Homo sapiens: one gene and its partners. The protein of the gene in region 3 purifies or fractionates together with the protein of the main gene of each other region. This does not show direct contact. Each region holds a gene or a part of one and is shown on either strand. Other genes may lie near its edges. The genes, in order: USP9X, U2AF2, SNRNP200, CDC5L, ARID3A, SNRPA1 and DDX23.

Evidence for each region.
Region 1: the proteins of SNRNP200 (region 3) and USP9X fractionate together in Homo sapiens (co-fractionation; 2 studies listed by BioGRID). This does not show direct contact.
Region 2: the proteins of SNRNP200 (region 3) and U2AF2 fractionate together in Homo sapiens (co-fractionation; 3 studies listed by BioGRID, with this or other methods). This does not show direct contact.
Region 4: the proteins of SNRNP200 (region 3) and CDC5L fractionate together in Homo sapiens (co-fractionation; 4 studies listed by BioGRID and IntAct, with this or other methods). This does not show direct contact.
Region 5: the proteins of SNRNP200 (region 3) and ARID3A purify together in Homo sapiens (affinity purification with mass spectrometry; 2 studies listed by BioGRID, with this or other methods). This does not show direct contact.
Region 6: the proteins of SNRNP200 (region 3) and SNRPA1 fractionate together in Homo sapiens (co-fractionation; 3 studies listed by BioGRID). This does not show direct contact.
Region 7: the proteins of SNRNP200 (region 3) and DDX23 purify together in Homo sapiens (affinity purification with mass spectrometry; 5 studies listed by BioGRID and IntAct, with this or other methods). This does not show direct contact.

What each region holds. Positions count from the first base shown.
Region 1 is NC_000023.11:41,168,945-41,172,444, reverse strand, and holds part of USP9X (ubiquitin carboxyl-terminal hydrolase 9X), read right to left. Parts: intron 2,451-3,500; coding exon 2,210-2,450; intron 1,976-2,209; coding exon 1,826-1,975; intron 608-1,825; coding exon 487-607; intron 1-486.
Region 2 is NC_000019.10:55,665,035-55,668,534, reverse strand, and holds part of U2AF2 (splicing factor U2AF 65 kDa subunit), read right to left. Parts: intron 29-3,500; coding exon 1-28. UniProt on the Homo sapiens protein: Plays a role in pre-mRNA splicing and 3'-end processing. By recruiting PRPF19 and the PRP19C/Prp19 complex/NTC/Nineteen complex to the RNA polymerase II C-terminal domain (CTD), and thereby pre-mRNA, may couple transcription to splicing.
Region 3 is NC_000002.12:96,285,047-96,288,546, forward strand, and holds part of SNRNP200 (U5 small nuclear ribonucleoprotein 200 kDa helicase), read right to left. Parts: intron 2,924-3,500; coding exon 2,817-2,923; intron 2,512-2,816; coding exon 2,393-2,511; intron 2,115-2,392; coding exon 1,960-2,114; intron 1,832-1,959; coding exon 1,642-1,831; intron 1,439-1,641; coding exon 1,265-1,438; intron 295-1,264; coding exon 134-294; intron 1-133. UniProt on the Homo sapiens protein: Catalyzes the ATP-dependent unwinding of U4/U6 RNA duplices, an essential step in the assembly of a catalytically active spliceosome. Plays a role in pre-mRNA splicing as a core component of precatalytic, catalytic and postcatalytic spliceosomal complexes.
Region 4 is NC_000006.12:44,422,206-44,425,705, reverse strand, and holds part of CDC5L (cell division cycle 5-like protein), read right to left. Parts: intron 3,060-3,500; coding exon 2,897-3,059; intron 1,288-2,896; coding exon 1,123-1,287; intron 1-1,122.
Region 5 is NC_000019.10:932,535-936,034, reverse strand, and holds part of ARID3A (AT-rich interactive domain-containing protein 3A), read right to left. Parts: coding exon 3,293-3,500; intron 1-3,292. UniProt on the Homo sapiens protein: Transcription factor which may be involved in the control of cell cycle progression by the RB1/E2F1 pathway and in B-cell differentiation.
Region 6 is NC_000015.10:101,292,449-101,296,624, reverse strand, and holds the start of SNRPA1 (U2 small nuclear ribonucleoprotein A'), read left to right. Parts: upstream 1-1,376; 5' UTR 1,377-1,446; coding exon 1,447-1,528; intron 1,529-3,452; coding exon 3,453-3,600; intron 3,601-4,176. UniProt on the Homo sapiens protein: Involved in pre-mRNA splicing as component of the spliceosome. Associated with sn-RNP U2, where it contributes to the binding of stem loop IV of U2 snRNA.
Region 7 is NC_000012.12:48,842,164-48,845,663, reverse strand, and holds part of DDX23 (probable ATP-dependent RNA helicase DDX23), read left to right. Parts: coding exon 1-90; intron 91-1,613; coding exon 1,614-1,724; intron 1,725-3,500. UniProt on the Homo sapiens protein: Involved in pre-mRNA splicing and its phosphorylated form (by SRPK2) is required for spliceosomal B complex formation.

The DNA of each region.
Region 1 (3,500 bases), on a different chromosome or scaffold from region 3:
TGGAAGTGGTTGTTTCTAAGGATAAAAAAGGAACAATACCGCAGATGACACATGACCCATATTATAGTCCAGGTATAGGCAAACATTTTCTGTAAAGGGCCAGGAAAGTTAAGCAGTTTAGGCTTGTGAACCATATGGCCTCTGCCACAACTCCTGGGCGGTGCTATTTTAAGACAAAAGCAGTCATGTAGACTGAATGTAAACAAATGAGCCTGGTTTTGATCATGGACACTAAAATTTAAACTTCATATAATTTTCATGTATCACAAAATATTATTCTTCTAGATTTTTTTTTTGTAGCCACTTAAAAATATAGCTCTTGGGATGCACAAAAACAAGCAGGGGGCTTGATGTGGCTTGTGGGCTGTCATCTGTCAACTCTTGTTATAGTCTATACCAAAAAGCACGGTCCATTTAGAAACAGAATTTGCTAATATACTCCTTTATTGTCCAGCAAGTACTTGATCATCATTTAAAAATTCTTACCTGGCGGCATAAGTTTCATAAGTACTCTTGCTCCATCTCTAAGGGGTGGCATATTTAGGCTGCTACCTAAGTCTGCAACTTGCCAAAGAAAAGAGATGTATCTGGGATGCAGTGACATTATCTAGAATATAAAATACACAAAATAATTACCTCTAAATTATTTACTCCCGTTTTATAAAAGCCCAAGTAAGTTTCTCTGTGTTAATCCCTATACTTTTACTTATGAAATTTCTACTCTTTGAAATAGTCTGACTTTCCCATCTTTTAATCCCTACAAATCCTTAATAGTGCAGATCAAATACATCATCAAGTCACTTCCAGTCATTTTTTTGTGATAGCTCCTCTCCTGTTCTATTAAACCATTTCTCTCATATATACAATTTAGACTCTGGACATAACAAAAGGCTGCCATGCCCACTACCAAATTCTTAATCCAGTTGTTATAGAGAGCCAAATCCTCCTGACACTGGAGTGGCTGCTACTATTGTAACCATTAAAATTTCTGTCGGGAGGGGCGAAAGGAGAGCTTAAAAATATTTCTTTGGCTATATGTTACTGACAATCTGATAAAGATTACAGGTATTTTCCTACATAGTTCTTGTTTTCATTTATTTATATTTTTAGAGATGGGGTCTCACTCTGTTGACCAGGCTAGAGCATAATGGCACAATCGCAGCTCACTGCAGCCTAGAACTCCTGGGCTCAAGCAATCCTCCTGCCTCACAGCCTCCCCAGTAGCTGGAATTACAGGTGTGAGCCACCATGCCCAGCTCATATATAGTTCTAAAAGAACTATCCGTTTTGTGGTATAAATTTTAGAAAGTGATACAGCTGACTCTTGAACAACACAAGTTTGAACTGCACAGGTCCATTTACATGCAGACTTTTTTCCCAATCAAATGTGGACAGAAAATTCAGTATTTCCAGCAAGCAAAACCCAAGTATATGGAAGGCTAACTTTTTGTATATCTGGTTGCACAGGGTCATCTGCAGCATTTTGGGTATATGCAGAGGTCCTGGAACCAATTCTCCACGTATACGAGGGATGACTGTTTTCCTCTAAATTTATACATCCAATAGTGTTATAATTAAGCTCTAATTGGTTAATTTTATGTAAAAGTAACAATACTATACCTATGGGGAAATTATGTTTTAAATTCCAACTGTGTTACAATTACCTTTTAGAGGGATCCATTCTGAAGTTGGTGGTTAACTGTATTTTTTTGTCTCATTAAACTGTAAGCTCCTCAAGAAAAGAAAGAACCACTCTATATACTTTATTCTCAAAAACCCTAGCATGATGCCTTACATACAGTAGTTCAAAACTGTATCTACTCACCACTCCAGGCAAACAGCTTTCCACTTCTGGATTGGGACCATCACTGTAATGATTACCATGGTTTCCAGGAGATCCAGTGGAGGAATCAGAAGAGCTATCAGGGCTTGAAGGCATATTGGAACTTATCTGTGTAAGTTTGGCTGTAATAAGCTGAAAATTATATACTATGTTAATATCAAAAACAAGGAAAAATACTTACACAAAACACAAAACTTAGTGATATACCAACCAAAAAATCCGAAAGACTACATGCTATACTTTAATGCTATAACTCTAACACCTAACACAGTCCCAAACATAACAAATGCTCAATTAGTATTTACTGATTAAACGATAGTCTCTGGTTTGATTTTATTGAAAAATCTGTTAACTATACATACATACCGATTTATCTTTTAAGTTTAATTGTCCAATCAACTTTCTATCATCTGCAGGATCTATCAGCTCACCGCCCACAAAGAGCTCAATTTTTGTATGGGCTACGTTGGCTTTAATACGATTGAGAATACATCGTCGTACTGAACCAATTGTATCATTTGTATGAGACCATACCTCCAAGTCATCAACCTGTCTGCCCTGGTTTGGAAATCGAACTACAAAAGAGAGGTGTTTACCGCGGAATGCTCTGGGGGGAAAAAGAAAGACAGACATCATCATATTCAGCAGACTCTGAAATTTTGTTGCCAAGAAAATAATGCTGGGGATTTAACACTAAGTATTTTCTTATTAAACAAGAGGATGTGAATTAAAGATACTTAATACAGCTTGAGAATCCCTTATATGAAATGTCTGGGACCAGACAAATTTTGGATTTCTTGGATTAGGGATACTCAACCTGTATTACTTTCAGTATCTTGAAAATAAGGCCAGGCATGGTGCCTCATGCCTATAATCCCAGCACTTTGGGAGGCCGAGGCGGGTGGATCACTTGAGGTCAGTAGTTCGAGATCAGCCTGGCCAACATGGTAAAACTCCATCTCTACTAAAAATACAGAAAATAAGCCAGGCTTGGTGGTGGGCGCCTGTAATCCCAGCTACTTGGGAGGCTGAGGCTGGAGAATCGCTTGAACCTGGGAGGCAAAGGTTGCAGTGATCCGAGACTGCACCACTGCACTCCAGCCTGGGCAACAAGAGTGAAATGCAAAAGAAAAAAAAATATTGCTCCTTTTAACTAAAAATATAAATAATATTTAAAAACATAATCATATTCTATTGTTGTTAGTCTTGTATCTATGGTTGCAGAAAATGAGGTGTCTACTAAAATGAAATTAAATCCAAGATATAACGCTTATTTTTATGCTGTAAAAGCCCAACTCACTAAGACTATTTTTAAATGTAAAAGGTTGGCTGGACGCAGTGGCTCATGCCTGTAATCCTACCACTTTGGGAGGCCAAGCAAAGAAGATCCCTTGAGCCCAGGAGTTCAAGACCAGCCTCGACAACATAGGTAGACCTTGTATTAATAAAAAAAAAAATTCAAAAAAAGAAGGTAGAGTTTACCTTTTACATTTAAAAGGTCGTTTTACATTTTGTTAAAAGCATCAACAAAAATGCCACAATGCACTTTATTTTTTTTCTGGAAAAAAGCCTTCATATCAAAATTCACTCCAAAATGCTATTTATATTGGTATAGTACCTTTTTTAAAGTAAAATACAAAATAAAAATCATATTCAA
Region 2 (3,500 bases), on a different chromosome or scaffold from region 3:
GAGTCGGGGACCACAGTGGACACAACCCCTATGGGTAGAGAAGAGGAGGACTTCAATTCCAGTACCAGGTTATCTCCCAAAACCTGGACAGTCTACGGCGAGCTCCTCAATTGCCAAAGAGAACACTTCCTGCCTGATCTGACGAGGGAGGGGTCGCCACGTGCCCACCCCACCCCAGCCTTATCTGACCAGTGAGGGTCCTGGGCAGTGGCACACAGAGGCTCCTCGGGGAGAACGCACCATGTCTCCCAAATCTGCCCAGCCTCAGGGGAACCTCAAACTAGAACATCCTCCAGAACGCTCCAAAGGCACAAAGTTCACACCCACATCTGCTACCTGCTGCTGTGGAATGCTGGCAGGTCACCTGGGCTCGGGACCTACTGGTGAGTCACAACACACCCCACCCCTTCTCTGACAGCCACCCAGGCAAGGCTCCCATTAAAGCTCAGTCCCGGCCGGGCGCGGGGGCTCACGCCTGTAATCTCAGCACTTTGGGAGGCCAAGGCGGGCAGATCACAAGGTCAAGAGATAAGACCATCCTGTCCAACATGGTGAAACCCCGTCTCTCTAAAAACACAAAAATTAGCGGGCTGTGGTAGCGTGCACCTGTAGTCCCAGCTACTCAGGAGGCTGAGGCAGAAGAATGGCGTGAACCCAGGAGGCGGAGGTTGCAGTGAGCCGAGATCACTCCACTGCACTCCAGCCTGAGCAACAGAGTGAGACTCCATCTCAAAGGAAAAAAAAAAAAAAGCTCAGTCCCTTCCCTTCACGCCCTGTCAGAACTGCAGGTGCCACTGCAGGGGTGCAACTGCCCTCACAGGGGTGGCACGACACGATGAGCAGCCGCGGCTGCCCGGGAAGTCTCAGAACAGCATCCGCAGCATTAGCTGCTCTGATCTCACTGGGAACTGTGGGCTGACTGTGGGATGCAGGATCCAGTGTCTTCGAGGGCTGACATACCAGAGTGGGGGCTTATCAGCTGAATTTACTGGCCCTCGATCCTGCCCTATCCACTGAACTCTGGACTCACAGACAAGTGCCTGCTGGTGGGATGATTCAACCTGAGACCCCACAGGCTCTGCCAATGTAACTTGACGCCGTCCTGTCAGATATCAGCTATGCCAGGCCCCGGTAACCAACCAGCCTGACTCCCAAGTTCAAAACCTAGGCCATATGGCCTCCCCTTCCTCTGCAGCCTCCACACCAAGTGTGAGTGGCCCCATCCCACCTCCATCCTGATGCTGGGAAGGAATAGGTAAGACAGGAAATGGGAAAGAGCCTCAGAAGCATGAGCCGCTGTGCCCATGGAAGGAGGGGAGATGCCCCCACACACCCTCTCCCACCTACTCACTCAAGCCCTTCCAGCCCATGATGACGCTGCCCCCACAGAACTGGAAGCACCAACCCAGCCAGCTCCAACCACCAGACTGGGGCCACACAGACCCCAGGAGACCCAGCTCCTATGCTACAGGGACAAGTAGCAGCAGCCCGGGAGCAGGAACACACACCGGGCACTCACCCCATGGGCCAGGCATCCTGTAAGACTTTCAACCTCCTACTGCAATGCTATACATACAGCACAGAAGGCAAAAACTGAGGCACAGAGCAAAGACACACAGGCAGGAAAAAGGCAGCCTCCAGAGCCCACACTCAGCTGTGACTCCCCACAGGCAGCATGGCAGGCTGCAGGCTCTGCCTGGGTCCAAGGAAGAATGGGTCACACTGGAAGCTCAGCCGCGAGCCCTGGCTCTGCCCGTCTCACTTGAGCAACACAGAGCCAAGGATACAAGAGTTGGGCTCCCTGGGTTCATGGCTCCTTGGGTTCAAGTCTTGTTTGTACCATATGAGCCTCCAAGGGCCTCAGTGTCTTCATCTGTAGAATGGGAAGAACCCTGGTGCCCATCGTGTGAGCCACGTGTGTGAGAACAGCTCAGGCCAAGTGCTGATTCAATCGAGGACGTGAGAACAGGCACGGCAGTCCCCATGGCCCGGGCATCTGCCAGACTCAATGCCCACAACAGGACCCACCCAGCCCAGACACACACTGTGAGCACTGTCAGTGGGGTCAGCCGCTGTTACATGACAACAACTTCAAAGGAATCTTCTCGGAGTCTTGAGTTCCTCCACTCATCACTGAGGACAAGCCCTGCTTGGCAGGGATGTTCCAAGAGTTGGGCGGGGAAACAGGGCCCCATACCTCTGCAGCGGCTGCATCTACAAAGCATCACACCTGGAGCAGAGGCTGTGTGGGGAAGACCCAGCAGGGATCCCCATTGTCCCGAAGCTCTTTCCTCATCTGTAAGATGGAGCAATGTCCCCTCCCATGGTGACCAGGCCATCTTGGTGCAGGGGGCGCCTGAGAGGAGCTCGGCAGCCACTATCACTGGGTTGCCCTCAGCTCAGCCCCTGCCAGAGCACCCCATCACCTTCAGAAGAGTCAAGCTCCTCAGCCTGGTAAGAGAAGCAACCTTAGATCCATAACCCACGGTTCCTATTCCCCAAGGCCCACCACACGTCCCTACCCAGGAAGGAGGCGCTGCACAGTGAGGCCAGCTGCACCGCCATCCATCTTTACTTACAAAAACAGGCAGTGGCCGGGAGCAGTGGCTCACGCCTATAATCCCAACACTTTGGGAGGCCAAGGCAGGTCACAAAGTCAGGAGTTTGAGACCAGCCTGGCCAACATGGTGAAACCCCATCTCTACTAAAAACACAAAAAATTAGCAGGTGTGGTGGCACATGCCTGTAATCCCAGCTACTCGGGAGGCTGAGGCAGGAGAATCGCTTGAACCTGGGAGGCGGAGGTTGCAGTGAGCCGAGATCACACCACTGCACTCCAGCCTGGGCAACACAGCAAGACTCCGTCTCAAAAAACACAACAAAAAAACAAAAAACAGGCAGTGGGCCAGCGTTGGACTCTCAGTTGTAACCTGCCAATCCCTGTGTCGTAGAACTGCCGTGCATGGAGGGCACTTAGGACAGCGCCAATCCCTGTGTCGTAGAACTGCCGTCCATGGAGGGCACTTAGGACAGCGCCAATCCCTGTGTCGTAGAACTGCCGTCCATGGAGGGCACTTAGGACAGCGCCAATCCCTGTGTCGTAGAACTGCCGTCCATGGAGGGCACTTAGGACAGCGCCAATCCCTGTGTCGTAGAACTGCCGTGCATGGAGGGCACTTAGGACAGCGCCAATCCCTGTGTCGTAGAACTGCCGTCCATGGAGGGCACTTAGGACAGCGCCAATCCCTGTGTCGTAGAACTGCCGTGCATGGAGGGCACTTAGGACAGCGCCTGACACACACTAAGCACCAGCAAGTGGCGGGCCACTCATGGGACTTAAAATGAATGAAAACGCAGTGGATTCACCAGGAAGAGACGTGGGGAAGACATTCTGCAGCTTGATCGGGGAAACGCACCCATACGTAAAAAGTCCATGTCGATTGGGAGCATGTCAACATATATTACAGGCTCCAAAAGGTTAGCTGAATTTACCAAAACCC
Region 3 (3,500 bases):
GCTGGGGCAGCTTTTCTTTAATACACAAACTGAGGAAATGACCCTGCAAATTTCAGGGCTTAGAAAGCCTTCATACGGAATCACAGATGAAATGCTTCTTGGGAAATTCACATGACACAGCGCCACGTCATACCTGCTCTGCCAGGGCCTCCATGGGGGTGATGTACACACAGCGCCCCTCCGAGCTCTGCAGCAGCATTCGCAGGATGGCAAACTCTGCACAAATAGTCTTCCCGCTGCCCGTGGGGGCCCCCACAAACACGTTGTCGTCACTGTTGTATACAGTGTTAAACACTGGAAACCAACAGAAAGAAGCAGTGTAAGTATCAAGAAGGAAGAAGAGACGGACTGGGACATGGATCAATTGTCAAAACAAAGGACAACATACGAAATGAAGTCAGGCAGTTCTGGAGTGCAGACAGAGGAGCTAAGGCATCCAAGCCTCTAACTCCAGGCCAGCCCTACTGTACCCCCTTACCTGCTCCCACTTAACAGTTAAAGGGGAAGAGGCCAAGATCAAGAGCCCAGGTCCCCTGGAGATGTGTGGGATGACAACAAAAGCAAAGCAAAAGAAGCCACACATTCTTCTTTGCTTCTCAGGGACTAGGATGCGGGACAGAAAGGAACTGGATCCCTTTCTCTGCCCCTTCAACACTCTCCTGCGTTTCCTAGAAATAGCCTAAGGTAGAAAGTAAGAGCCTTATCCCTGGCATCAAGACTGAATTAAAATCCAAGTTCTACTATTTATCAGTTGGTTCAACTGGGGAACCCTCTATGCCTCAGTTCCTCACCTATAAAAGGAACACTAATGGCAGTATCTCCAATAGAGATTCCTTTTAGGCTTGATGGGAGGAATAAGAGAGAAAACACCGGTGATGTACTCAGCCATGGACTGAGGAAACAGTGCCTGCTCTGTGAATGTCCCCGTTATTTATCATGATGTGGTGAGGAGGCTTCAGTGCCACCCCATGGTTCTGGTTCAATACTTGAGCGCCAGGGGCAGGCCTCTAAGCCTCCTGGGCCCGAGAAATGACCATGCCATGTAAGGCCTTGCTCTATTGCCCCTCCACAGTGACACATGCAGAGCAGCAAAGCAACCAAAGGCTTCTGACAAAGGAAAAAGTCCTGGTGGGTCCCAGCGGTCACACTGAGGAGCTCCCAGACCTCCCAAGTGCCTGAGCACCCCCACTCCCCTGCCTGCCACAGAGCACATCTGTCTCCCGGTGACTTCAAAAGCCTCCAGAGGAGGGATGGAAACACTTACCCTGGGTCTGGATGGGATTGAAGAAAGGAAATTTATCTTGGTAAAGACTCTCAAAGGCACTGTTTCTCAGAGCAGACACGGGCAAGGGCTGCAGGTCCAAAAGTTCGGTTGGAGGGGGGTACTTCTCCGGCAAGATCAGGTGCCGGAAGGAGACAGGCAGCTGGGTCTCACAAGCTGCCAGAAAAGAAACAGGAAGGATATAAGCACTGCTCTCTTTCCCTCACTGGCCTCTAGATCCCCTCCATGAACACTGGAAACCTAGGCAGCATATGTATCACTCTGTCCCCAGCAAGGGCAAGCCCGGGACAAAGTGCAAGACATTCTTCTACTGTCCTTGGAGGGACTGTTCCTGGGGACTCTGGAGAGGAGACACTCACAGAGCCAGCGGTCAGACACCACTCGGATGAAGTACTGAGGGGGCAGCGGTTCAAAGACAGGCACGAAGAATGTAATGAGGTGCTCGTCCTGGGCGTACTTGGCCTTGAGGAGAAAATACTCATGGTGCAGAATCACCTCGCTGTCCACATCCTCCACCAGAATCCAAAAAGCCTCGGATGAACCATGCACCTGCCAACAGGAGCAAGGGTAAAAGGAATGTGAGTCAACGTAGACTGAGTGCCTCCAATCCATCTCCTCGGCCCAGCAACGTAGACTGAGCACCTCCAATCCAGCACCTCTGCCCAGCAAAGCCTCACCTTTTCATCCCACTGGAAGTCTGGCGTGATGGTCAGCTCCACCTTCAGGGTGGAGCGTGTGATAGGCTGCAGGTGCACTGACAACTCCAACTTGGGAAACAGATGGACATATTTGTGGATGGTCTTCCCCATCTTTGGCATGCGGATAAGCTCCCCTACAAGGAAATGAGAGTACTGAGGCTGCAGCCCAGCCTGCCTACTATACTGCAAACTGGGCCTGAGGGCCACTGTGGGAAAGGGGTAGGGTCTTCCCTTTATGGTCAGTGGAGCCCAGGATTCCAAGTCCCCAGACCAAGGGCCAGCCTGTACTTCAGTGGGACTTGGGGAGTGAACACAGGATACTAATGCACAGGCCTAGGAACAGGAAGACTACATAGGCAAACTGGGAGAGACACCCAGGCAGTGAGGACAAGGGCGAGAGCATCCCACACACCAATCTCATTATGATTCAGGTCGTACAGACGCTCAAAGGGGAAATTCTTCTTCTCAATCTTCTTCACTACTTCCTCAGGGAGTTTCCGGAACTGGCGCAGAGGACACATGGACTGCCACCTATCCAGGAAGGAGGCAAAGCTGTTGGTCCCTTCTGCAGGGATGTGACAAACCACCCACTTCATGGCTTCCAATAGTTTAGCAGTGACTACACAAAACACAGTCATTAAAGGCAGACACTGACACTGTGCCAGCCCTGGCCTCCACCACAGAGGGCCTTCCCTCTTCTCAATGTGCACCAAGGTTCAGGTCATACTTCCGATGTCAGGTCTGGAGATCAGATGCACCCTGAGGCTTTCCCATCAGACCCTTGGGTTGGGGACCCCCACTCATGGTGACCAGCATCCAGCTCACTGGGTCCTTACATGCGTTTGTCGATCATCTTGCAGAGGTTCAGGGTCTTGTCTGTAAGCTGTGCCCAACCTCGGTTCAGGACAATTTCAAATATCGCTCGCATCAACCGGCCAGCCGACTAAGCAAAGAAGCAGCATTCCCACTGTTAAGTCTCGACTATCCCCAGGCCTCATGAGCCACTCTACACACGGTTTCATTACCTCCAGCTCTGACACAACCACCCACCCTAACTCAAAGGCAAAGTCCCCTCTGTCTTTACGCCTTTCTCCGTTCCATATAGTAGATGCTTGCCGGATGGGGAACAATTAGAAGAGTGCTGCGGCTCAAGGTCACTGCACAACATTTTAACCTAACATTCACTGCATGATTTTAAAGCTTTTGAGTCATTTAGCATTTAGAGTTCTAGGAAGAGTTGAGGGTACCAGTGACCTGTTCTTAGAGGTAAAGATGAAGAGCAGCTAATAAAACCCTGTGCCATTTTTGGATTTATTTATGAGCTGTGCAGCAACAGTGGGAAATCACTTTGCTGCTGGGAAGCAGACACTGCGTGCTGTGGCTCTTCCTGTCTCTCTGAGGGCCCGTGGAGCCTCGAAGCATTCCCTCTTAAGGTCTTACCTTTCCCACGTGCTCAAGATGTATACTACAGAGTGGCTGTACCACACATGCACCAACCAACTACCCGGCAAGAGCAGAAC
Region 4 (3,500 bases), on a different chromosome or scaffold from region 3:
AATGTGGGATAACACATTAAAATTTCATGCCATTTCTGAAGGAGTAAATGTAACTCAAAGTAGCTGAGAACTAAACACAAAAAGTATCATCCTCTGTTCCCCACTGAAAAGCACATTTACATGGGTCCCCTCTAAAATATTGTTTCCACTGATGTCATTCTCACTCCAATCCCCTGAGATTCAAGGTCCCTAAAATCATCCAGCAATGGACTGCAGCTACTGAAAGGGGTCATAAAATATCAGTTCTAGTTTAGGATTCACCACTTACCCACCATGAGACCTGAGAAAGTTGAGACCATGAGACCTCAATTCATCTGAGCTTGTTGAGTATTCCTTACTAGAAATATCTGGGCCCAGAGTATCTTGGATTTCTGATTTTTTCAGATTCTGGAACATCTGCATTATACTAACTCTAATCCAAAAAGCTTCAATGAGCATTTCTTTTGAGCTTCATGTCGGCACTCAAAAAGTTTTGAATTTTGGAGCATTTCAGGTGTTGGATTTTTGGATTAGCAATGTTCAACCTGTAATACCGATCCTATTTATATCACTGTGCTGTTACGTGCAAATGAGAAAGTAATTACGTATAAGATATATTAGTACAAAGTGTTACTAATATTATTTTGACACACTCTATCTAAATTTCCAACTCCAGTTTAGATAGAGGTCTTACTATGTTCCCCGGACTGGATTCAAACTCCTGGGCCCAAAGAATCCTCCCACCTCAGCCTCTCGAGCAGCTGAGACTACAGGCTCGTACATCGCACCACCCAGGAACCAAGATGTATTTGTTTTTAAGACTAACCAATAACATCTTTTCTTTGCTAGATTGAAGCAATGTCTAAAAGACTACCTATGTGTATTTTAGAGAAGCATAATGAATTTGACAGAATGTATTTAAATTTCCATATATATATTTTTAAGAATGCTCATCAAAATATTGTGAGTATGTTAATTATGTGAGGATACATTATTAATGACATAAGTTATTTACTTTAGAAGTTTTTTCAATATTAAAAAGGACTAGGTAGAGATCTTGGGACATTTAATGGCTATTCTTCATTCTTCCAGCCTACTGACACATTCAGCCAAACTCACGCTTCTTTCAGTACAGTTACCCACCTGCTTTCGAGCATCCACATCAGCAGCATCTTCAATGTAAGTATCATCTATTTCACGTTCTTCCAGCTCCTTCTCGGCATTTTCTGGTAGAACAATTTCAAAATCATTCTTAGGGGCAGGAAGGCCCAACAACCCTAAACGGAGATGTTCTCGGGATTCTCTTTCCTGTAGAAAAGAAGTGGTCCTTCTCAATTCATGCATATTAAACATTCCACCAGTATTTTATGAGTCTCTTAAAAATTGATAGCACAACAGGGTGACTCTAGTCAAAATAACTGTACATTTTAAAATAACTAAGAATAATTGGATGGTTTCAAACACAAAGGTTAAATGCTTGAGGGGATGAATACCCCATTTTCCACGATATGATTATTACACATGCATGCCTGTATCAAGATATCTCATGTACCCCATAAATATACACACCTACTATGTATCCACAAAAATTAAAAATTACAGAAAGAGAAAAAAAGTCTCAAAAAAAATCAGCCTAATATTAATTCTAGAAAAATAATCCTGACTTCAGAGCTAAGACAAGTCTTATGTTTATTTTCTATCCCCCCTTCTTCCCAACATTAAGACCAACCAAAAACTTTCACTTGTGATCACTGAAGATACTCTGGGATATTCCAACAGGAGGTCTGAGGCCAGGGCAGAAAAAAAGACCACTTTGAGGGAACACATTTCTGACACCGAAAGTTAACAGCAAATGAAAAGAACAGGTTCAAAAGTTAGTTTGTCCTTGGACTAATAAAATCCACTCTAAAAGATACTTGAATTTGTATGTATGTGTTTATTTTTAATGGAAATACTAAATCCCATGCAGAAGAAAGAAAGTAGAGTCCTGGTTCCCAAAAAAGCCTCCTGGTACCCAGAGTTTTCCCATCCATCCTCAGTGCTTACATGTACCAGGTGTGAGGAACAGATGAGTTGCTATATCTAAAACATCCTCCATGCTTACTCATATTGTAGTCTCCATCTGAGACAGCCCCCACCCTCCTTCAGAACATAGCTCCTCTAATAAGGCTTTCCTGTTACCCAACAAATGTGACTATTCCCTTCTTTAACTACCCTAAGCACACTGGTTTTACTCAAAGGGCTTATTCTGTTCTGATATTGCAATTATTTTTGGACTTAGTTTAGTACTGTCAATCTCCCCAGAATATAAATTTCCTTAGGACAAAGGACATCTTTATTCAACTTTAGATCCCCTCAAATGTCCAAATGCATGCTCTGCATGCATGAGGTTCTTAATCTATTTAATTCTTATGTATCCATTCAGAGTTGGCTTTAGTTGATATCAATTTGAACTTTAAAAAACATATATAAATCAACCAAATATATACATGAGGTTAGAATTAATTTTAAACTGAAGACAAGCCAGTATCATTAGAAGTTTTTTTTTTAATTTCACAATGATTTCTGTGGCATTAGATAATAAGGCCCAATAGCAAAGTAATAAACGCAGTAACACGGGCAGAAGCAAAACTTAACTTTTTACAGTTAGCTTTCTACCTCAGCTTGCTAAAGAAAACTTCAGTGAAATCAACAACGAACATCAATATTCACAAACCTAGTAAGCATAAAGAAAGGTGGGTTTTGAGCCCAAAATATTCCCTTTCATCAAGTCTTACAAATAATTCTTTTTCTGGCATCCACAGGTGTATAGATTCTTAAGGTATATGTGATATGCACTAACAGGAGAAATTTTAATTTGGCATCCATGAGATATTAAAAAAAAATTTAAGAGTATTAAAAGGGAATTGACATTTACCATCTGCTTCACGTAAGAGGGATCACTATAGTCTGCCATTCCATCCTCGGGATTAATGTTTAACTTGTCTCGAAGAGGAGTTCTACCCGGAGTAGAGTTAATAACTGGTTTGGGAGTTGTTCCACTCCGGGGAGTCAGCCCTTCAGCTCCATTAGAAGGAGTCCTAGAAAGACAGGAATCCCAATTAACAGAAGTGCCACTTACATTTGGATTGTGCTTTCAAATGTTTTTCACATAAATTATTTCACAGGAAATATAGAAAAAAAAAAGAATAAAGATTTCAAAATTCTGTCCAGCTGGTTTTGTTAGGATCTCTAGGTTAAAATCAATGTTTGGTCTAGCTAGCATGGTATTTTTATTTTACTGACTTACAATAATCACTACATTTGATATTTTCTTGCCTTCCTAAACTACGTCCACTAAACATTATTTCAACCTTTTCTTGGCACATTAGGGCGACTAAGAACATGCAGTGGGCAGGGAGGTGGGCCACCACACTCAATGACCCCAGATGACTCTTTGAGTTTTGTGTATATTTGTCTCCTCCCTCCCTATCAAGCTGTTGGTTCTCACATCACTATCACTGTCATTATTACAAATGTAC
Region 5 (3,500 bases), on a different chromosome or scaffold from region 3:
GCGGATCACAAGGTCAGGAGATCGAGACCATCCTGGCTAACACGGTGAAACCTTGTCTCTACTAAAAATACAAAAAATTAGCCGGGCGCGGTGGCGGATGCCTGTAGTCCCAGCTACTCGGGAGGCTGAGGCAGGAGAATGGCGTGAACCCGGGAGGTAGAGCTTGCAGTGAGCCGCGATCGCGCCACTGTACTCCAGCCTGGGCGACAGAGCGAGACTCCGTCTCAAAAAATAAATAAACAAATATATAAATAAAATCCTACCATGGTGGGGTGCGGTGGCTCACGCCTGTAATCCCAGCACTTTGGGAGGCCAAGGAGGGCAGATCACCTGAGCCCAGGAGTTCTAGACCAGCCTGGGCAACATAGCAAGACCCCGTCTCTACAAAAATTAGCTGAGTTTGGTGGCGCCCGTCTGTACTCGCAGCTACTCAGGAGGCTGAGGCAGAAGGATCGCTTGAACCCAGGAGATCGAGGCTGCAGTGAGTTAGGACAGCACCACTACACTCCAGCCTACCCGACAGAGTAAGACCCTGCCTCAAAAATAATAATAATCCAATAAAATCCTACCGTGGCCGCTTTCTAGAAGCTGGGCCTGCTGTGTGGGTGACAGGAGGCCACCAGGAGGCTACGTCAGACATCAGGAGGCTGAGATCCTAATCACTGCCCGACACGTGCTGGCCTCCAAAACTGCACGTCCCCAGGCCCCAGGCAGCAAGGTTCCAGGTGTCCAAGGAAAGAACCCGTGGCCCTGAGCCTGCTGCGCCCGGCCCCCCGCCGCGGCCTGGCCACCCACCAGACCTGCAGCCGACAGCAGAATTTCACAGCTGTCGAGGATTTGCAGGCGGAAGTTAGCCCCGAGCCCTGCCAGGACCTGGGAGGAAGAGGCAGAGACGGTGCCAAGCGGCCGGCCAGCGGGCCAGGCCTGCCACGTGCCAGGAAGGGGGTGGGGCAGGCGCCAGAGTCAACAGGGGCCCCAGTAGGGGCCGGGCGGGAGGTAACACTGACTGGGCTGGTTGGGCCCAGGCCACTGTTGACACTGGGAACACAGGTGTCTGGCCAGCTGGGCGGGCGGCGGCATCGGCGGCTGGACCTGCCACGAACAGCCCAGGATAAGATCCCAGGACTGGCTGGGCACCGTGGCTCAGGCCTGTAATCCCAGCACTTTGGGAAGCTGAGTGAGGCAGATCACTTGAGCCCAGGAGTTTGAGACCAACCTGGGCAACACCGTGAAAGCCCTTCTCTAGAGAAAAAAAAGTCACAGGACTGCAGGGCGGGGGCCTCCCCCCACCCCCGCTGCCCACGACCATCCCTAGGCCCTCATCTTCTCGGAGTTCCAATCCCGTCTCCCGCAAGACCCAGAGGCGGCACCCGGTCCCTACACACAAGCCGAGCTTTAGTCCACCTCAGGGCCTCTGCACTGCCCGGTACACCCAGGGGGCAGGTGCGGGGCGGCAGGATCTCCAGGAATACCTGAGGCTGCCGGTGACACAGTGACCCCCCTCCCTGCACTGGCCTCAGTTTCCCCATCTCGGCTTCCCGCTGCAGAAAAACCCCACATGGCACCTACAACCCTGACCCGCGGTGTCGCCCAGACAAGGTAGACAGTGGCTTCTGCCTCCTGCCTTCGCTCAGGACATGCTGCGGGCTGTGGGGTCAGGGCGCCTGGCCCCTCATCCCTGCCTGGTCTGGGCCAGTCACCCCAAAACTCCCCCATCGGCTTTGGGCCTTGGAGGCCGGGGCTGTCTGGGCGGGGCGTGTGTCCAGGGTCAGGGGGTCCCATTCACCTCTGACCCCCGAAGGACCGACTGAATGGGGGGCCTTGACCCTCCCTCTCGGCTTGGCTATAACCCTGCGGGGATGGAGGTCTCCGTCCGGCTCCTGCCCGCCCCTCCAGCCCAGGGCTCCCTGCGGGCTGAGTCCCGGGCAGATGGCGAATATTGGGTGAATGTTAAATTAATTGGTGAATTAAATTAATGAAATTAAAGAGAATCCACTCTCAGCATGCTCATCCGTATCATCTTAAACCCAGAAAAGATCACAAGACCCCTCCTCCCAACACTGAGCCTCTGTTTTCTCACTGGCAGAATGGGACGCGCGGCAGTGTGGCCCGTGGAGCATCCCCTTCTGCAGGAGTGGGAAACTGAGTCACAGAGCAGGGTGGAATCAGCGAGACGCCCCCCCCCCCCACCGAGTCCCCGCCGCTGCCCTGGCCATTCTCCCACACCGTGTCCGGCTTTCAGCTCTTTACTATTTGTGAGTTTCCAGGCAGCCCAACCTTAAGTCTCTTGAGGGCTGCTGGGGTTAGGGCCGCCCCTTAAGCTACCCGGCACCCCTGGAGTCAGGAGCCCCGGGGAGGCCCCCCTGGGTGTCTGTGCCTTGGCCCCTCCTAGGAGGCTCCTCAGAGCGGATTCTGGAAGCCCAGGGCCGAAGGGGCTGCCCCGAGGCAGGCATGTCCCAGCGTGTCCATCATCCACCTCCCTGCGGGAGCCCAGACCAGCTCCAGCCCCGGGCGAGGAGGTGGCTCCCCCCAGCCGCGCCCAGAGGTCGAGGCAGAGCCCAGCTGGACGAGGGCTGGAATGTGAGCCTGGCCACCATCTGGTTTCCATCTGCCCGGCCCAGCACGGCCCAACTTCAAAGCATCCCCCGCCCGGCCACTTCCTCTGGCCTGGCCGCCTGCGGGGAAAGGCTGGGGCGGCCCCTACTTCCTCCTTCAGCCTGGGGTCCCTGAGACCCCCTGCCGGCCCCAGCCTTAACCGCCCACTCGGAGCCTCACAGGCCCTGGCTCCTGCGTCTCCTGCAGCCACACCTGAGCCACCCCCACATCCCCTCGGCTGCCAGCTGCAGCCCGCAACCCCCCACGGCTCTCCACAGATGCCAGGGGACAGAGGAGGCCAAGTCACCACGTCACCAAGGCCCCGGCCTCTCTGCCCGCATCGCCCGCAGGCCTGGTTCCTCCAACCCAAGCCCAGCTCGGGCCGGCGCCAGCCTCTCCCTCCCAGGCCCACCTTTCCATCTCTGCCCCATCACCTCCGATATGGGGGCCGTGGAGCCCCCCAGGTTTCTCCTACCCGGCCGGGTGCTCCTCACACATCCCACATCAGAGCAATGAACAGCCAGCTGGTCGAGCCCACGCCCAGGAGGGAAGCACAGGAAGCACAGCTACCGCAGGAACCCCCAGCTCTCAACTCGACGCCCGGCTCAGCACACACCCCGTGCAACGTGGGCCTTCAAAGGGCCCCACTGGCCCAGGAGCAGGTGCCTCAGCCGCCACGCGGGACGCGCCCACTCACCTGCTTAAACTGCTCCTCGTAAGTCCAGTCGCCGTGGTCAGGCGGCTGCAGCTGCGGGGCTACGTGGGCGGCCCCTCCGGGGTGGGCAGGGCCAGGCCCCGGCCGCTCCTGGCCCCCCAGCACCCTGGGAACGCCATCGCCGCGGAAGGCCTGGGGTGGCTGGGCCTTTCGGGGGAACAGTGCCGTGGTGCCCAAGCTGGCAGGGCCT
Region 6 (4,176 bases), on a different chromosome or scaffold from region 3:
GCAAGCCACAGAGTGTGTTCATATCCCTAATATATAAAGAAATTCCACAAATCAATAAGAAAAAAGGCAGACAACTCCATAAGGAAAAAAAAAAAATGAGCCAGGGACTCGAAAGAACACTTAACCAAGGAAGCTATCAGAATGGGCACCATACACATGAGAAGGTTCTCAGCTTCATTAGTTATTAGAGAAAAGCAAAGCAAAGCAGTAGTGCAATACCACCACACACCCATCAGAATAGCTGAAGTTATAGAGTTAAAATGCCAAGAAGGCTGAAGCTGGAAGCCATGAAAACCCTTACACACCGCTGGAGTGTGTATATTATTTCAGCCTCTTAGCATAACTGTTGGGCATTACTTATTGATGATAGATATACCCTATGTCCCAGCAGTCCCACTCCAGGACAAACTCATGCAAACGTGCATCAGAACCACGTACCAGAAAATTCATAGTAGCATTACTCAGAATAGCCCTAACTGAAAACAACTTTGATGTCTATCAACAGCAGAATAAGTAATTTATGGTATAATATATACAATGGAATTCTCTTCAGCAGCAAAAGCAAACAAACCATCTCTGTATGCAACCTGGATGGACTCCAGACATAATATAGACTCCATGAAACTAGGCCAAAAAAAAAAGCATACTGCATGATTCTATTTATAGCAAAAGCAAGCAAACCGAATTTGTAGTGTTGAGTTCGCGGTTGCCTTTTGGGAAAGAGGGAGGCTTTCAGAATAGCGGTGTTTTGGATCCCGGTGTCGGCTACGCAGCTGTGTTCACTCTGGTCATTAATCACTGTAAATTCCTGATATGCACACTTTTATGTATATCACATTTCATACATATGAATATTCAGAAGTCTAAAGGTCACAAGCTTAACCGCAAACCCTACCGTGCCCGAGGCCGGGCTGGACTTGCGGGGCGGTGGGGTTGTCCCGGCGACCTGCCCCAGGCGGGCCACCTAGCCCGGGATCTCACACTGTAGCCCGGAGCCAAGGCCCAGGCCCGGGGCGGGCACCTGAACTGCTGGACCCTTCACTGAACCCCACGGGTTCCCGCGACGGCTGGTGGAGGGAGGACAGTCACCGCTTCCCCTCCCACCTCGAGGTGCGCTAATGCATGAGAAAGTTCCCCTCGGGTGTTTCCACATTCGCCTTAACTTTTAAACACCAACGTCTGGAATCAGGGGTCCTCCAGACTCCGAAACACACCCTAGGAAACAACCCAGAACGAGACACATCCCCTGTGCGCGCGCCACGACTTCCGGCAAGAACGCCCCCGGAGGCGTGGCTCTTCGATTGCTTCGGCCTGGCGGTCGAGCTGCGCGCGCACTCGGCGGCTGCGATTGGTGCTGCCTGGCGGCGGGGCGCGGGGCACGCTGGGACGTCTCGCTGGCGGGAGGCCACGGGCTTTCCACAGCGCGGGGGAACGGGAGGCTGCAGGATGGTCAAGCTGACGGCGGAGCTGATCGAGCAGGCGGCGCAGTACACCAACGCGGTGCGCGACCGGGAGCTGGACCTCCGGGGTGAGTCCGGGGGCGTGGGCGGCCAGTCCCCAGGCGGCACCGAGCCGCCTTATTTTCCGCGCTTTGCCGCGTGCACCGAAGGCCGGAGCTTGGCCCGCGGGCCGGTTGTCTGGGCTCCGACCGGGCTGCGCAGGGAACGCCGGGCCTGATTCTTGCCGTTGTTGCCAGATGAGCATCCGGTTAAGCTCCTGGGAGCCTTCTGTTAGCGCCGTGCCTCTTGACAGGCACGGGTGACTTCATTACTTCCTGGTGCGTCCTCGTGGGGCCCTGTTAGGCCTTGCTTGGCTGTTTCGCCGCTGGCTGTTTGAGGGCCCGGAAGAGCGGCTCATTAATGGTTGTAACGCAAGTGCAGGGCGCGGGATTGGTTCTTAATACTTGCCGCCAGATGATATTTTGAGCGTAGATAGGATATGTGTTCATTATTCCTAATGTGAGGGAGGAAACTAAGTCCCCGAACAACCGCGATTGTTTCCTCCAGTATTTTCTACTTAGTAGCTTTAATTGTCTGGCGTTTCCCCTATATGAAGACGTTTTAAAAATTGAACTGTGTCACCCAGGCTTGCACCGCCGGGTGCTGTGTGTAAGTTGTGGAAGCGCTCGCAATTATTCAGATTCCTGTACTATTTCAACCTTAGCAAGACTTGGTAAGATACTGGGAGGGCAGCTAGCTAGTTGGCATTTCAGGAGACGGCTTTAAAAGGGACGTGATAGAGCAACTTCTCTGAGGATAAGACCATGCTGTCGTAGCCTGAGATTTGTTCCCATGGGGACCTATGGCCTCGGAGCAGCATCGCTGCGGGATCTGCTTAGATTTCTTGCCGACCTTTGGGAAATCCCACTGTTTTGTGTTGTGTTGTGTTGAGATGGAGTCTCGCTCTTTCCGCCCCAGCTGGAGCGCAGTGGCGTGATCTCGGCTCACTGCAACCGCCGCCTCCCCGGTTCAGGTGATTCCTGTGTCTCAAGCCTCCCGAGTAGCTGGGAATACAGGCATGCGCCACCACGCCCGGCTAATTTTTTGTATTTTTAGTAAAGACATGGTTTCTCCATGTTGGTCAGGCTGGTCTCGAACTCCCGACCTCAGGTGATCCGCCCGCCTTGGTCTCCCGAAGTGCTGGGATTACAGGCTTGAGCCACTGCGCCCGGCCCAACTCACCACTTTTGATGATCTCTGCCATTTCTCTTTATGGAGCATGTGCAGTGTTGAGAATACGTATTTTGATGCAGTACGTGTAGTACAGCTCTGAATTGTGTCCTTTAACTTTGGGTAAGTTCTTTTTTTAGTAGACCTTGCTTCTTCGGAATATTTCTTTTCTTATAGTGCCTAACACAATAATTATGCCCAAATTAGACAAATTAACATTTGAGTGTTCACAGATTTATTACTGTATTTAAACCATTGATCTTCAATTCTGAATTGGAGCTGGGGGAGGGGAGGGAGAACTGTCGTGATATGTTGAGGCTGTTCTGATGGGTTCTAAGAATCTGGCCTGTGGAGATGCAAGAGTGGAGAACTGTCGTCCACAATGTTTGAACGCCGTTTGGGCACTGAGACTAAGCAGCTCCAAGTGTAAACTCCTGTTGTGCCGATTCCGCTTAACTAGCCCAAACGACTTAGGACAGTGTGAGGCACCTTGTAAATGTTCTTATAAATGTTAGCTGCCTATATCAGCCATTGTTATTGTCCTTGTCCTTGTTGTCATCAGATTCTAAGCTTCATGGCACTGGGGACTTGAGACTCGTTCAGCGTTTTCTCTCTAGTATCTTAAACAGCGGCAAGTCATGCGTGACCCGACATAGGTGCTAGGTAATACTTCCTGAATAAATCAAAGCCTGGAGTCAGATACTATGAAATACAGCTAATGCTTTAAGGGGCAACTGTTTAGTTATATTAATACCTCTTGTGTTTTTTTCCTCCATTTTATAGGGTATAAAATTCCCGTCATTGAAAATCTAGGTGCTACGTTAGACCAGTTTGATGCTATTGATTTTTCTGACAATGAGATCAGGAAACTGGATGGTTTTCCTTTGTTGAGAAGACTGAAAACATTGTTAGTGAACAACAACAGAATATGGTACGTGTCTGTAGGGGAAAGTAATTTTTTCCCCTAGAGTAAATGTTGCAGTGTTTCCTGAAGAAGTTGTAGCACGTGCTACTGGTTAAACCTACATGTTTCTTTTTCTTTTTCTTTTTCTTTTTTATTTATATTTTGAAAAAATATTTTTTCCATAATGGAAGCCACATTCAATACATGTTTTTTCTTAAAATGAGAAATGAACTTCACTTTTCCTATAGAGATCCAGAGATTAACCTGGCATTAGTCTAGTCTTACTTGTATCTGTTCAGAAATCATGTATTTTTATTTTCATGGTTAAGTTTCTAAATAAAAACATGTTGCTTTGTATACATTTTGGCTTCTAAAACAATTATCAAAGGGGTCATAGTAAAAGGATATATAAAGGTAACAATTATACTTTTGACTGAGCGTCTCTGCTTTTTTTTTTTTTTAACTGCAACTAATTTCTAGACTGTTACTTATTGAAATTGAGATCTTTTTTGACCCTGCCTTCATCAGCTCTGTGTAAACTTTATTGGAAAAAAAGCACTTGGTGTATAGATAATGTCTTTAAAGGTACTGGGTGGTGAGTGG
Region 7 (3,500 bases), on a different chromosome or scaffold from region 3:
ATCTAAAGATAGAAAGCGGCATCGTTCAAGGGATAGACGTCGAGGAGGCAGCCGTTCTCGCTCTCGTTCCCGTTCCAAATCTGCAGAAAGGTAAAGTAACTTTGTATGTTATTACATGGGAAGGGAGAGTACGTTTCAGATTTCTTCCTTCTTGGTTCTTCTGATGCCTCCAGTATTAGGCATCTACTTTTTATTTTTATTTTTTGAGACAGAGTCTCGCTCTGTTTGTTACCCAGACTGGAGTGCAGTGGTGCGATCTCAGCTCACTGCAAGCTCCGCCTCGCAGGTTCACGCCATTCTCCTGCCTCTGCCTCCTGAGTGCGTAGCTGGGACTACAGGCGCCCGACACCATGCCCGGCTAATGTTTTTGTATTTTTAGTAGAGATGAGGTTTCACCGTGTTAGCCAGGATGGTCTCGATCTCCTGACGTGATCTGCCTGCTTCAGCCTCCCCAAGTGCTGAGATTATAGGCGTGAGCCACCGCGCCTGGCCTTTTTTTTTTTTTTTTTAAAAGATGGAGTTTCACTCTTGTTTCCCAGGCTGGAGTGCAATGGCACGATCTCGGCTCACTGCAACCTCTGCCTCCCAGGTTCAAGCAATTCTCCTGCCTCAGCCTCCCGAATAGCTGGGATTACAGGCATGTGCCACCACACCTGGCTAATTTTGTACTTTTAGTAGAGACGGGGTTTCTCCACGTTGGTCAGGCTGATCTCAATCTTCCGACCTCAGGTGATCCACCCACCTCAGCTTCCCAAAGTGCTGGGATTACGGGCGTGAGCCACCACGCCCGGCTAGGCATCTACTTTTTGTACATTAATCTACTCCTAGCCCAGTTGGACCTGCAGGTGTTTTCAGTTTTCCTCAGTGACCCAACTCTTAAAAGTTGAGAGGGGGCCGGGCGCGGTTGGTTCACGCCTGTAATCCCAGCACTTTGGGAGGCCGAGGCAGGTGGATCACGAGGTCAGGAGATCGAGACCATCCTGGCTAACACAGTGATACCTGATCTCTACTAAAAATAAAAAAAAAAAAAGTTGAGAGGGAACTAGTAAGGTGAAGGTCCGGGTTATCAAGGAAGGTTCATCTGTGGCCGGGCGCGGTGGCTCATACCTATAATCCCAGCACTTTGGGAGGCCGAGGTAGGTGGATTACTTGAGGTGAGGAGTTTGAGAGCAGCCTGGCCAACATGGCAAAACCCCGTCTCTACTAAAAATACAAAAATTAGCCAGGCATGGTGGTGCACATCTGTAATCCCAGCTACTCGGGAGGCTGAGGCATGACAATTCCTTGAACTCGGGAGGCAGAGGCTGCAGTGAGCCGAGATCACACCACTGCACTCCAGCCTGGGCGTGAGAGTGAGACTCCATCTCAAAAAAATAAAAAAGGAAGGTTCATCTGTTCACATAGTCCGTGACCTGTCATTGCCGTTAATATTTAACAGTACATCTCTGATCTATAAAAGCTTCTTAGAATTCCCTCGTTATTTCCGTGAGAGATACATTCTCTAATTTGTAAAACATTACTTTGGGACGAGAGTATAGGAACTTTCTCAGGGCTGCAGTGAAGCAAGATACTTTGGAAATACCAAGTGAACTCTTAAATTTGCGGTCTTCCAGAGAACGACGGCACAAAGAACGAGAACGAGATAAGGAGCGGGATCGGAATAAGAAGGACCGAGATCGAGACAAGGATGGGCACAGACGGGACAAGGACCGTAAACGATCCAGGTACATGAAGGAATGAGAGGGGGCTTTAGGGGAATGCTCCCATTTCTTCTCTGCACCTGAGTTTGCTCAGCTTCTTATGAAAGTAGATTTCTCGCCAGGCGTGGTGGCTCACGCCTGTAATCCCAGCACTTTGGGAGGCTGAGGCTGGTGGATCACGAAGTCAGGAGATCGAGACCATCCTGGCTAACATGGTGAAACCCCGTCTCTACTAAATATACAAAAAATTAGCCGGGCGTGGTGGCGGGTGCCTGTAGTCCCAGCTACTCAGGAGGCTGAGGTAGGAGAATGGCGTGAACCCGGGAGGCGGAGCCTGCAGTGAGTCGAGATCACGCCACTGCACTCCAGCCTGGGCGACAGAGCAAGACTCTGTCTCAAAAAAAAAAAAAAAAAAAGAAAGAAAGAAAGTAGATTTCTCTTAACAGATTCTGTTGGTAGTTATTACAGAGCTCTCTTTCTTATTTATTTTTATTTATTTTTTTGAGGCAGGGTCTCTTTTGCCCAGGCTGGAGTGCAGTGGTGTGATCACAACTTACTGCAGCCTTGACTCCCCCAGGCTTAGGTGATCCACCCACCTCAGCCTCCTGAGTAGCTGGACTACAGGCATCTGCCACCAGATTTTGTTTTTTTTGGGTTTTTTTTTTTTTAATTGATCATTCTTGGGTGTTTCTTGCAGAGGGGGATTTGGCAGGGTCACAGGACAATAGTGGAGGGAAGGTCAGCAGATAAACAAGTGAACAAAGGTCTCTGGTTTTCCTAGGCAGAGGACCCTGCGGCCTTCCGCAGTGTTTGTGTCCCTGGGTACTTGAGATTAGGGAGTGGTGATGACTCTTAACGAGCATGCTGCCTTCAAGCATCTGTTTAACAAAGCACATCTTGCACCACCCTTAATCCATTCAACCCTGAGTGGACACAGCACATGTTTCAGAGAGCACAGGGTTGGGGGTAAGGTCACAGATCAACAGGATCCCAAGGCAGAAGAATTTTTCTTAGTACAGAACAAAATGAAAAGTCTCCCATGTCTACCTCTTTCTACACAGACACGGCAACCATCCGATTTCTCAATCTTTTCCCCACCTTTCCCGCCTTTCTATTCCACAAAACCGCCACTGTCATCATGGTCCGTTCTCAATGAGCTGTTGAGTACACCTCCCAGACGGGGTGGTGGGCGGGCAGAGGGGCTCCTCACTTCCCAGTAGGGGCGGCCGGGCAGAGGCGCCCCTCACCTCCTGGACGGGGCGGCTGGCCGGGCGGGGGGCTGACCCCCCCACCTCCCTCCCGGACGGGGCGGCTGGCCGGGCAGAGGGGCTCCTCACTTCCCAGTAGGGGCGGCCGGGCAGAGGCGCCCCTCACCTCCTGGACGGGGCGGCTGGCCGGGCGGGGGGCTGACCCCCCCACCTCCCTCCCGGACGGGGCGGCTGGCCGGGCGGGGGGCTGACCCCCCCACCTTCCTCCCGGACGGGGTGGCTGGCCGGGCGGGGGGCTGACCCCCCTACCTCCCTCCCGGATGGGGCGGCTGGCCGGGCGGGGGGCTGACCTCCCCCACCTCCTTCCCGGACGGGGCGGCTGACTGGGCAGAGAGGCTCCTCACTTCCCAGTAGGGGCGGCCGGGCAGAGGCGCCCCTCACCTCCCGGACAGGGCGGCTGGCCGGGCCGGGGGCTGACCCCCCCACCTCCCTCCCGGATGGGCGGCTGGCCGGGTGGGGGGATGACCCCCCCACCTCCCTCCTGGACGGGGCGGCTGGCCGGGTGGGGAGCTAACCCCCCCCACCTCCCTCC